Linked DNA regions of Homo sapiens. The protein of the gene in region 1 purifies or fractionates together with the protein of each later gene. This does not show direct contact. Each region holds a gene or a part of one and is shown on either strand. Other genes may lie near its edges.

Evidence for each region.
Region 2: the proteins of ANXA6 (region 1) and MCFD2 fractionate together in Homo sapiens (co-fractionation; one large-scale study listed by BioGRID). This does not show direct contact.

The regions. Positions count from the first base shown.
Region 1 is NC_000005.10:151,102,936-151,105,886, reverse strand, and holds part of ANXA6 (annexin A6), read left to right. Parts: intron 1-583; coding exon 584-642; intron 643-2,194; coding exon 2,195-2,317; intron 2,318-2,951. UniProt on the Homo sapiens protein: May associate with CD21. May regulate the release of Ca(2+) from intracellular stores.
Region 2 is NC_000002.12:46,901,210-46,903,590, forward strand, and holds the end of MCFD2 (multiple coagulation factor deficiency protein 2 isoform A precursor), read right to left. Parts: 3' UTR 665-2,381; downstream 1-664. UniProt on the Homo sapiens protein: The MCFD2-LMAN1 complex forms a specific cargo receptor for the ER-to-Golgi transport of selected proteins. Plays a role in the secretion of coagulation factors.

The sequences.
Region 1 (2,951 bases):
GCACCAACCTAATAAAACCTGGAGTGTCCCAGGCAAACTAGGACAAGCTGGTCACTCACCTCTAGAGTTTCAGATTCAGCATCTCTGGAATCTGGAATCTGAGGCATGAGAATCTGCCTTTCTTCCAAGTTTTCAAGTGATGCTAATGTTGTTGGTCCGGAAACCACACTTTGAGAACCACTGCTCAAAATCTTTCCAAAATCTGAATCTTTAGGGTGGAGCCTAAACCCTGAGTTTTAAACAAGCTTTTTGGGTGATTCCAATGCATTTAAAAATTTGAGGCCCCGTGCCTTGGGTTCATGAGGAGTTAATTACCTTTGAATCCTCTCCTGACCTTGGTTAGCTGTAAGCACCTTAGAAGGAAGAGAGTTGCAACCAATTGAGAGCCAGGCCTAAGGATGGGCCAGAGGAGGAAGCATGGGGAAGGGGAGCAAAGGTGTCGTCTGAGCATGACCCTGGGGTTGACAATGATCTGCAGACCCATGCAGGGATAGACGAGGTGGGGAGATGGGGGAGGCCGGTCCAGAGTCTGGGTTCACAGCCTCTGACCACGTTCCCCGCATCTCTCTGCTCTTCCTACCAGTTCAAAGTGTCAAGAACAAGCCTCTCTTCTTTGCCGACAAACTTTACAAATCCATGAAGGTAAGAAAACATGCTGGCGTTCCTTTCCCTTCAAGCACTGACTTACATACACACACAAACACACAGATGTGCACCATCCCCCAGATCAGGATTCCTGGCAGCTGTTTCTTCCCATTTGACATTTATTAGCATCTGCCCTTGTCTGGCTCTAGGATGGTATTTCCCAGTTGGGGGTGATTTCCCCCGCCTTCCCCCGCCCCGGAGGATATTTGGCAATATCCAGACACATTTTTGGTCATCACAACTTGGAGATTGTTGCTACCAGCATCTGGTGGGGACAGAACAGGGATGCTGTTAAACAACCTCAGTGCAAAGGATAAGCTTGCGCAACAAAGAATTATCCAGCCCCAAATGCCAAGGTTGAGAAATGTGCTCTGGAGGCACACAGGGCTGGGTAGGACACAGTCTCTGCCCTCTCAGAGCTCACAATCTATCCGGGGACACAGGGTCTCCTAGGACAAATAGTCATCAAAGGTCACAAGCGCTCCCCTCTGAGTCTAGTCCTGCCCTTCTGGGAGAGCCCAAGCCACACTGGCCACCCTCTCAGCCACTGGAGTCTCAACTGCAGATAGCCTGGGCAGGTGGGAGGGTAGGAAGGAACCTGAGACCCTCACCCTACAGTCTCCAAATGTGACAGCCATTCATTGAGCACTCACGATGTGTCAAGCCTGTGCCAAGGGCTTCATCTCTCTGACCACAGCTGACCCTCATGGCAGTCCTGTGAAATTGTGGTAGCATCCTCATTTGATAGAGGAGGAAACTCAGGCCTAGGTAGGGTAAAACGTTGCCCACATTTACATAGCTCCTAAGAGGCAGAGCTGGGACTCGAACCTAGCTCTGACTCCTAGGCTGGTGCTTGTCGCTCCCTGGGGGCAGAGGCAGCTCTGGCTGCCCACACATTCCATGCCCTGTGCCTGCTCCTTGGGCCCGGTGGTAGTTTCCTAGGGCTGGTGTAACACATTCCAGAAATTGGGTGACAAAAGAAATTTATTCTCATAGTTCTGGAGGCCAAAAGCCCAAAATCAAGGTGTCGCCTGGGTTGGGTCCTCCTGGAGGCTCTGGGGGAGAAGCACTCCCCTGCCTCTCCTAGCTTCTGGTGGTTGCCAGAAGTCCTTGGTGTTTCCTGGCTGTGAATGCATCACTCCGGTCTCTGCCTCTGTCCTCACCTAGCCACTTTTCTGTGTGTATGTCTGTGCCCTCCCTCTTCTAAAGATATTGGTTATTGGTTTAGGCTTCAATCTAATTCAGTATGCCTTCATCTTAACTAATTACATGTGCAAATACCTTATTTCCAAATTACATCATGTTCTGAGTTTCCAGGTGGACATGGGGACACTATTCAACCCACACACATCTTTTTTGCGTGTCAGTCTGGCCAGTCCTGGGCACAGAGGGATTTTGGTCAGGACTGTTTGCAGAAGACAGAGGTGGAACATCCGCCCTGTTTTTGGAAGGAACAAGGGAGAAAGGCAGATGGGATACCACTGTTTCTTGCCTGACTGGGCTCTATCTCTCCTTCCGCCTGTGTCTCCCTCCTGCCTGGCTCCACCAGGGTGCTGGCACAGATGAGAAGACTCTGACCAGGATCATGGTATCCCGCAGTGAGATTGACCTGCTCAACATCCGGAGGGAATTCATTGAGAAATATGACAAGTCTCTCCACCAAGCCATTGAGGTAAGGGGAGGGGCTAGAGGTTAGCAGGAAGCGGGTGAGTGTCAGATCCCTAATATAAGATTAGAAGTCTTTATTCCCATGGACTTTTTTCCAGTGGGTTACCGCTTAGAACAGCCAGGATATTGAAATGAAAGGGGGTCTGTATTGCATTGTTTATACCGAAATCAATTCCAAAAGAATCAAAGGTTTATAATTAAAGATTTCCAAATAAAACAAGAGCCCATTTTTTGCTTTTTTTAAAGCAATGTTATGGAAGTATAACTTACATATCATGGGCAGGCATGGTGGCTCACACCTGTAATCACAGCACGTTGGAAGGCCAAGGCAGGTGGATCACTTGAGGTCAGGAGTTCAAGACCAGCCTGGCCAACATGGTGAAACCCTGTCTCTACTAAAAATACAAAAATTAGCTGGGTGTGTTGGCTCATGCCTGTAATCCCAGCTACTCAGGAGGCTGAGGCAAGAGAATCGCTTGAACCCAGGAGGTAGAGGTTGCAGTGAGCTGAGATCACGCCACTGCACTCCAGCCTGGGCAACAGAGCAAGACTCCATCTCAAAAACAGACAAACAAACAAACGAAAAACTTACATATCATAAAATTCACCTGTTTTAAGGGTACAATTCAACAGTTTTT
Region 2 (2,381 bases), on another chromosome or scaffold:
CAGGAGAATTTTTTATAAGGAAGGGCAGGCAAGGACCACAAAGGCCAGCATGGAATAGTTACTAACAGCAGCCAGCTGTGGAGAAGGAAGGTGTTCCAGCCTTGTCTGTTTGATGGGGTGATTCCACTATCTGAGGATCTGCTTCTCTCCCTCTCCCAGCTGCCAACAACTGGGAGCCCATTCACTAGATCCATCCAGAGGGGTAGTTCTGGATGAAGAAGGGTCAGTGCAAGGTCCGAGGGTCTCAGAGGGTACGGAGGGAGGCAATGATAATTTCCTTTTAAAAGGCAGAAAAAAGTGTGTCTTCTCAAAATGCCAGGGGAGACTTTTTTTGCTTGGGTCTGGTATGTTTTCAATAATGCTATCAAATTAAAAAACAGTCGCCAGACCAGGGGAAAACGCTATGCAGTCTCCTAGAGAATGGTGTCATAATTTAAATTTGACCAGAGAATGAAGATCCAAAAGTGATTTCATTCAGAAGAAAAAATGCCTAAAAGGGGAAAGTAACTTTGAATTCTGAGAATTGACTCCTGCAAAAGGAGCAGGGTATAGCCGAAGATAGTCACAGGAACTATGATAAGAGCAGGCACATGTGAACATTTGTAGTAAACACACCCTGCATGTGGCAGGAGAAGCTGATGTGAACAAAATCAACTGCTCGAGGTTTTGCTTCATCAGTTTTATTGGTCATATATCCAGAATTCATCATATATAAATCTTTCAAAATAATGAGCTATTACAAGAATAGTTTACAAGTCAGCTCTGACTGCACAAATACTTGACACAGGAAACCATTTTTACAAATACATATGTTTTCTTATAATACTGTAATAAAGAAAATAAGTCTGTATACATCCTACGACAAATTTTGTAGTCTCTTTTTCCCATTCAATCATCGTTTCAGGTTTTCTATTACAGAACGTCCATCACATCCAATAAACCAAATTACAATCTGCTGCTTCTTCTCATTTTCAAATACTATAAAGATTCACACTGTTAAAGGGTTTTTTGGGTTCCTTTTCTAATCTTTCCTGATTTGAAAAGAATCCATGTATCTAGGCTAAAAGAGGTAACTTCAACAATATCCCTCTTGACTAGAACTTCTATCTGATTAATCATTGTTTGGTGAATTATCTTTTCACTTCCTACTTAGGCTAGGCCAGGTGGTAGTTTTACCCCTGCTGATAAAGTCCTGACATTCCTAATAGTTCCTAAACTGCAAATAAAAAACCCTAGAAACGAGTGAAATAGAAAAGAAAGCTAAACCACTATTGATTAGAGAACACACTCAAATTCAGGGTCTCTCCCAGGTTGAAGAAGACAGAAAAGCAATAAAGTATAAGGATGTGGCAGTAGTTGTATAAAATACTGAAAATCTGAAAGAGTCATCACTTAAGCCAGTAGTGTATCATTTCCAAAATGTCAGAGGATACAGAATCTTAGACTCTGTGGCTAGGCTGAACTCAGAATCTCAGACTCTGTGGCTAGGCTGACATTCTTATGCTGTGGCTTTGAAATAGCCTAATAAATATCCACTTGCCCAGAGCAAGTAATCATTTAGGCCAGGGGAACTTTACAGAATACTGACCATGTTTGCCTGAAGAGATAGGAACCACCAGGGCAAACATTTGGTATTCACTCCACTTCACTGTTACTGAAAAGCATCCACTTGGCAAAGCCTGTTGTTTTACTTTTCAGGTGATGTGAATTAAAATTAAGAAACTAGCAGTATTCTACTACAGTCAAGTTCCTGAGTACTCAGCTCCAATTATCTAATATTCTTGAAAGGATGCTGATATGGTTTGGTTGTGTCCCCCCACAAATCTCAACTTGAATTGTATCTCCCAGAATTCCCACGTGTTGTGGGACAGACCCAGGGGGAGGTAATTGAATCATGGGGGCCAGTCTTTCCCGTGCTATTCTCGTGACAGTGAATAAGTCTCATGAGATCTGATCAGTTTATCAGGGGTTTCTGCTTTTGCTTCTTCCTCATTTTTTCTTGCCACAATGTAAGAAGTGTCTTTTGCCTCCCACCATGATTCTGAGGCCTCCCCAGCCATGTGGAACTTTAAGTCCAATTAAACCACTTTTTCTTCCCAGTCTCGGGTATGTCTTTATCAGCAGCGTGAAAACGGACTAATACAGTAAATTGGTACCAGTAGATTGGGACCTGCTGAAGAAATACCCAAAATGTGGAAGTGACTTTGGAACTGGGTAACAGGCAGAGGCTGGAACAGTTTGGAGGGCTCAGAAGAAAACAGGAAAATGTGGGAAAGTTTGGAACTTCCTACAGACTTGTTGAATGGCTTTGCCCCAAATGCTGATAGCAATATGGACAACAAAGTCCAGGCTGAGGTGGCCTCAGATGAAGATGAGGAACT